2 linked regions of the Homo sapiens genome follow. The protein of the gene in region 1 interacts with the protein of each later gene in a biochemical or structural test. Each region holds a gene or a part of one and is shown on either strand. Other genes may lie near its edges.

The links. The genes of interacting proteins can lie anywhere in the genome.
Region 2: the proteins of AKAP9 (region 1) and PRKAR2A interact in a test that uses a peptide from one of them, tested with the Homo sapiens proteins (one study listed by BioGRID).

The regions. Positions count from the first base shown.
Region 1 is NC_000007.14:91,943,630-91,947,465, forward strand, and holds part of AKAP9 (A-kinase anchor protein 9), read left to right. Parts: intron 1-3,836. UniProt on the Homo sapiens protein: Scaffolding protein that assembles several protein kinases and phosphatases on the centrosome and Golgi apparatus. Required to maintain the integrity of the Golgi apparatus. Required for microtubule nucleation at the cis-side of the Golgi apparatus.
Region 2 is NC_000003.12:48,764,151-48,767,874, forward strand, and holds part of PRKAR2A (cAMP-dependent protein kinase type II-alpha regulatory subunit), read right to left. Parts: intron 1,200-3,724; coding exon 1,098-1,199; intron 929-1,097; coding exon 854-928; intron 1-853. UniProt on the Homo sapiens protein: Regulatory subunit of the cAMP-dependent protein kinases involved in cAMP signaling in cells. Type II regulatory chains mediate membrane association by binding to anchoring proteins, including the MAP2 kinase.

The sequences.
Region 1 (3,836 bases):
ATAGAATTACTAAGAAAGCTTTACTATTGATATTAATGCACCATAATATAATGCCTTTCAAATAGTTATTCATACATATTTGCTTAATGAATGAACAGAATGATTAATGAGTCATTAATAAGTGTTACTTTCCTAGCACGGTTGTAATTTAATAACATTAATCTAGAATTCTCTTAATGTGAAATCCATATTGCTGGCATCAGAAACAACTTTAAATGATCATTTTCCAAAGTTTATCTGAGACTTCATTCTGCAAATGTCTCATTTGTTCACTGGACTTAAGTATTGTATTTGATAATCTAGTTTTGCAAACCACAACTTACAAATCTTTTTGGGGGTAATTTATTGATAAACAGTTCCATTGGAAAATTCCCTTTCTGTATCTAAACCTTATAAATGATCACTTTTTAAACAGTTTGTCATGTATGCAGTATAATATATAGTATACTGTATAAAATGTTTTATACTACCCCAAATCTGTAATAATGGGTTAATAAATTATGATATGTAAAATAATTCTACAAAGACTTTTTGAGTGTGGAAAATGCCCACAAATAATGCCAGGTTAAAAAGAAAAAAGTTACCAGGAAAAGGTATATGTACATATTTAAATATGAAGACACCTGAAAAAAAGCACCAAGATGTAAATCGTGGCTATCTCTGGGTGGTGGCTTATAGGCAATTTTAATTTTCTTTATACTTTTAGTATTTTCCAAATTCTTGATACAATGTATCTCTTTTATGACCAGAAAAGAATATTCAAATGCCATTTTTTTTTTTTTTGAGACAGCCTGTCTCCCAGGCTGGAGTGCAGTGGCAGGATCTTGGCTCACTGCAGCCTCCACCTCCCAGGTTCAAGCGATTCTCCTGCCTCAGCCTCCCAAGTAGCTGGGATTACAGGCATTTACCACCACGCCTGGCTAATTTTTGTATTTTTAGTAGAGATGGGGTTTCACCATGTTGGCCAGGCTGGTCTCGAACTCCTGCCGTTAAGTGATCTGCCTGCCTCGACCTCCCAAAGTGCTGGGATTACAGGCATGAGCCACTGCACTCAGCCTCAAATGCCATTTTTTAAAAAACATAAAGGCTTATCAAATACATTATATTAAACACATGTTATAGTGTATGACCATTATCCAGAACAGGAAAATGAGGCACAGAATAACTAGGTTTCCTATTTTAGCGTAGGCCTGGAATTGTAATTGCTATTTCAGTGCAGAGTGTATAATATAGTTGGGATTATATTGTTAGACATTTTATAGATTTCCTTTCTGTTTTTGTTGTGCTTATTCTTTCCTTGCTGTTAGTTCGTATTGCTATGGGCATGCTCTTACTCCTCATCTGCCTCTTTTCCTAATTTGCTGTTTTAGATTTGCTACGACTAAGGAACCCAGAACTGAGGTTGACAGAATACTATGTAAAAAGAAAAAACAACAACAACAAAGACCTTAGGCGGGGTGTGATGGCTCACTCCTGTAATCCCAACACTGGGAGGCTGAGGTGGGAGGATCGCTTGAGCCCAGAGGTTCTAGATCAGCCTGGGCAATGTAGTGAGACCCCATCTCTAAAAAGAAAAAAGTATAAAAAACAAAACAGGTGGGGCGCAGTGGCTCACACCTGTAATCCAAGCACTTTAGGAGGTTGAGGTGGGTGGATCATCTGAGGTCAGGAGTTTGAGACCAGCCTGGCCAACATGGCAAAACCCCGTCTCTACTAAAAAATACAAAAAAATTAGCCAGGCGTGGTGGCAGGTACTAATCCCAGCTACTGGGGAGGTGGAGGCAGGAGAATCACTTGAACCCAGGAGGTGGAGGTTGCAGTGAACCGAGGTTGTGCCACTGTACTCCAGCCTGGGTGACAGAGCAAGACTCTGTCTCAAAAAACAAAACAAAACAAAAACAGAGGCCAGTGTAGCCTGCCCAGTGGGCTTTAGGGCAGTTTAGTTTTTCTGCTGCTTGTTGGTTGTTTTGGTTTACTGTTGGGTCCTCAGCTATTTCCTCAGTATTGATGTTGCAAGAAGCATGACCCTGGGAGATGTGAGACATTACTGCATTATGTATTAAGTAAATATTTTCAGAGCTGGGCTAGCTCCCTCTGCAGTGTTTTGACGAGGATGGCACTACATAGGTTGTCCTTGTGTTGAACCAAACTATTTTAACTCCATTTTAAATGACTTCATTTTTTTCCAAGTATAATTATTCATGGCACGTAAAGGAAGTATTGTAATTTAAGTGAACAGAATTAAATAGAGGACAGTTGTATATTTAATATAAAATTATTACTCATGTAAATTTGCATTAGGTATACTTTTTAAAGTTATTCAGTATTTTATATAATGGGCATTATTTGCTGAATAATTATAAAAAACTACTGTCTATTATATTCAGTAATTTGTAATTACATGACTTTTGTTTAACAAACATTTTCAGTGTGAAGAGTAGTTCCAATTGTGTACAAAAAAAAGGATGGTGCTCCATGCAAGCTGTATATTGATTATTGATAGCAGGACTTTTCAGTTACTGTTTCCACTGTGATAGACAAAGCTGGTTATGGTGTAAAACTGTTCTTTGCATATTTCAGATACTTTGTTCCACAGCTAAGAAAGTGTTTTCCCTTCCTGTTTTAAGCATTCTAGTTTTTCATACTTAGATGTGGCAGAGCTTACTTAGCATTCCGAGTAGATGCAGCAGTTTGATAGCTTCATCAACATTTATTGCAGCAATAGTGCAGTGCCTGTGACTTAAAACTAATTCATAACCTTCAGGCTTTTTTTTTTTTTGAGACGAGATCTCGCTGTGTTGTCCAGGCTGGAGTGGCAGCCTGCCTTGACCTCCTGAGCTCAAGTGATCCTCCTGCCTCAACCTCCTGAGCACCTGGGACTACAGATGTGCACCACCACACCTGGCTAATTGTTAAAATTTTTTTGTAGAGATGGGATTTCACCATGTTGCCCAGGCTGGTCTTGAACTCCTGGGCTCAAGCAATCCTCCTGCCTTAACCTCCCAAAGTGCCGAGATTATAGGGGTGACCCACTGCACCCAGCTTAGGCTTTGTCGGAATGAAGCAAAACATGGTGTTTAGAGAGAGAATGTGGAGGAAGGAACGTGATGCCCTGTCAGTGAAACTGAAAGTTGAATGATAGCTCATGGAAAGAGGAAGTGAAAAAGGTAGGATACATCCAAGTGATTGAAATATGACAAGAATGGAACAAAAATTTTTTCAAACAAAAACATCTCTTATTTTATAAATAAAAAGGTTCATAGTAAAAGCTAAACTATGTCTACAAAATATCTATTATAGGCTACTGAATATTGAAATGTAAATGAATTTCTTCTAATATAGCTAGAAAAGGTTATGGTAAATTGCTAAACAATAAGGGACATTATTTATATTCATTTCTTAGTAAGATTCCACTAAAATTAAGATTAGTCACTTTATGTAATTGCTTAACATCCATTTAAAAACTATAATTTGGAAAAGCTACGGAATTTTTCAAAACTTATTTATAAAAGTGGTTTGGTGTCTGGGGTGTGTGTGTGTGTGTGCGTGTGTGTGTGTGTGTGTGTGCTGGAGAGAGGGAGAAAGAGAATTTATAATACTGCTATCTGGTCTGGTAGAAATGGCACTAGGACTTTGGAGACATTTATGTGTTCATTTGTTCAACCAACATTTTTGAATGCCTACGACTGCAGCTATGAACTTTTACTTAGCAAGCATTTTTTTTTCCCCCCGAGATGGAGTCTCACTCTGTCACCCAGGCTGGAGTGCAGTGGCACGATCTCGGCTCACTGCAACCTCCACCTCCTGGGTTCTAGCTATTCTCCTGCCTCAGCCTC
Region 2 (3,724 bases), on another chromosome or scaffold:
GAACCATAGGCAGATAAGCTTATACCTGGAAAAGTCCAATACTATTTATGTTTAATTAAAAATACAAACACAGCGGACAAAGAAAATTATCAGACAGTACTCATTACAATGATCTAGCCCACTGTTTAGTAATCTTTACATCTTACAAATTTGGTTAATCACTGAAGACTGTGAACTCTGATTTGTGTTAGATTAGCCAAAAGGATGCCTTTGTGTCAAATATAGAAAGTTAGAGGACAGAACTCTTTAACCTTCCCCAGGTTCTAATAGCAATGGATGAAACTTACTTAAGGTCAAAAGAAAATGACATCAAAAGAACAAACACTAGAAGCCAAGGAAAGGTGAGAGGAAGCAAGAGATCTGCACGTGTCAGTAAGACGGACGTCAATAAGCTTCAGAGGACTACATAATAGTCCTCTGAAGTATGATCTATTACCTGGTAATAAGAGCTCCCAACAGTGGGAGAACATAGAAGGTTTTTTGGTTTTTTTTTGAAATGGAGTCTTGCTCTGTTGCCCAGGCTGGAGGCAGTGGCGCAATCTCGACTCACTGAAACCTTTGCCTCCTGGGTTCCAGCAATTCTCCCGCCTCAGCCTCCCAAGTAGCTGGGATTACAGGCATGGGCCACCACACCCAGCTAATTTTTGTATTTTTAGTAGAGATGGAGTTTTACCATGTTGGCCAGGCTGGTCTTGAACTCCTGGCCTCAAGTGATCCACCTGCCTCAGCCTCCCGAAGTGTTGGGATTACAGGCGTGAGCCACTGCGTCCGGCAAGAAGTTTTTGAGATAAATGATGTACTAGTTCTTCAGGGGTGACTTCCAGGAAAGGAGCTGCGTAAAGCCCTCACTCACCTGAGTGATTATGCGTTCTCCATCCTTATAGATCTTCTCTCCTATTACATCCACAATCTTCATTCGTTCTGACACCTGAAACAACAAATTCACAAATAAAAGGAAAAGACCTTAATTGAAAGTCACAATAGCTATGCAGCACAGAAATAGGATTAGAATAGTATGATTTGAAAACCTAACAACAGAATAGTTTTAAAAGCTTTTCCTGATCCCCATGAACAGATTCTTATTCAAGCCACTTTACCTCTAGTGATTTAAGGAGGGGCACAGACTCAATAAATGATTCAAACATCTTCCTCTTCTTTGCATTATTTTTCACTATGATTCTTCTAAAAGTCACCCGGTCCTACAAGAAAGAATATGAAAATTCTAGTAAATGCCTATATACAGGAACATCTATGGTTTAATTAACTGGCCAAAGCAAATATTAGAGGAATATGTAAGTTACTGTGTTAATTAAGTGTTTAATGATACTTCAATCTTGAGTCATCACTGGAAGTAAAGGACCTATAGCCTGAGCCAGCCAGATGCCCACATGCTGTTGCTTGCTATCTAGCACTCAATAGGTGCCACCTATGGGTCATAAATAGAACCCAAAACAGAAAACACCTAAACATTTATGAGCTCACTGTCACTGTTCAATATCAAAAAAGACACCTCTAGTGAGCCGAGATCATGTCACTGCACTCCAGCCTGGGTGACAGAGTGAGACCCTCATTTCAAAAAAAAAAAAAAAAAAAAAAAAGAGACACCTCACCAAAAGAGAGAATAAAACAATCATTTAATCCTTAGAATCCAGGATTTAAAAAAACTTAAAAAATCCAAAACAATTAGATTGTTCTTGCCTAAAAAAAGAACAATTAGATTGTTCTTACCCTAAAAAAGTTTACAATCTTAATGGGGAGATAATATAAAATATCAAAATATGAAGGTTGGCTGAATGCAGTGGCTCACTGCCTGTACTCCTAGCATTTTGGGAGGCTAAGGTGGGCAAATTGCTTGAGCCCAGGAGTATGAGACCAGCCTAGGCAACATGGTGAAACACGCTCTCTACGAAAAAATACACAAAAAAAGTTAGCTGGGCATGGTGGCACTTGTCTGTACTTGGGTGGCTGAGGTGAAAGGCTCACCAGAGCCTGAGAGGTCAAAGCTGCAGTGAGTTGTGATTGTACCACTGCATTCCAGCCTGGGCAGCAGAGTGACACTATGTCCCAAAAACAACAATATCAACAACAACAACAACAACAACAAAATACATAGGAATAAAAAGTCTACATTTCAAGGACAGGTGCAGTGGCTCACACCTGTAATCCCAGCATTCTGGGAGGCTGAGTCAGACAGATCACTTGAGCTCAGGAGTTCAAGACCAGGCTGTGCAACATGGTGAAACCCCATCTCTACAGAAAATACAAAAATTAGCTGGGCATGGTGGCGTTTGTCTAGTCCCAGCTAGTTGGGAGGCTGAGGCTGGAGAATCACTTGAGCTCAGGAGGCTAAGGTTGCAGTGAGCTGAGATTGCGCCACTGCACTCCAGCCTGGGTGACATAAGTTGAAACTGTGTCTCAAAAAAAAATAAAATAAAAATAAAAAGTCTACAGTTCAAGACAGCATATGAGCATATGAAATGTGCTTGATGAAACTACAGAAGACAAGTGCCACATAAATTTCAAGGTAAGAAGGGGAGATCACAGTAGGCAGGAGTGATCAAAGATTATTTTGCAGCAAAAATGTCTAGGACCTGAAAGAGAGGTAGGATTTAAGTTAATGGAGAGACACGGGAGGAATACGCAAGATGGAAGGCAGGCATATGAAAGATACCTTGACTCTAGCAAGTCATGGATTCCTTCTGTTTTATTTTGAGATAGGGTCCCCCAATGTTGTCCAGGCTGGCTTTGAACTCCTGGGGTCAAGTGATCTCCCCACCTCAGCCTCCCAAGTAGCTGGGACTACAGGTACACAACACTGTGCCTGGCTTAGTAAGTAATGGATTCTGATCAGAAGACAGTTAACCAAACCAGGCACTTCTCAGATATGTGTACACATGTGCAGGGAGATACATGTGAGAATGTTAATTGCTTAGTCTTAGATTCCTAAATGGGCAAGCAGTTATTTGTATCTAAGTTAACTACCTTTCTTCCACCTCAGGCTGTCAGGACTATACATATATACATTTTGTCAGAAAGTATAATAATGGGCTGGGCGCAGTGGCTCACGCCTGTAATCCCAGAACTTTGGGAGGCCGAGGCAGACGGATCGCTTGAGGTCAGGAGTTCAAGACCAGCCTGGCCAATATGGTGAAACCACATCTCTACTAAAAATACAAAAATTAGCCAGGCATGGTGGTGGGCGCCTGTAATCCCAGCTTCTTGGGACGCTGAGACAGGAGAATCACTTGAACCTGGGAGGCAGAGGTTGCAGTGAGCCGAGATCATGCCACTGCACTCCAGCCTGGGTAACAGAGCGAGACCCTGCCTCGAAAAAAACAAAAACAAAACAATATTTTAGGCTGTGTGTGGTGGTTCATGCCTGTAATCCCTGCACTTTGGGAGGCCAAGGCAGGAGGATCGCTTGAGGCTAGGAATTCAAGACCAGCCTGGGCAACACAATGAGACCTCAACTCTATTTAAAACACAAAAACAGGCTGGACGCAGTGGCTCACACCTATAATCCCAGCACTTTGGGAGGCTGAGGCGGGTGGATCACAAGGTCAGGAGATCGAGACCATCCTGGCTAACACAATGAAACCCCGTCTCTACTAAAAATACAAAAAATTAGCTGGGCATGGCGGCACGCGCCTGCAGTCCCAGCTACTAGGGAGGCTGAGACAGGAGAATCGCTTGAACCTGGGAGGTGGAGGTTGCAGTGAGCCAA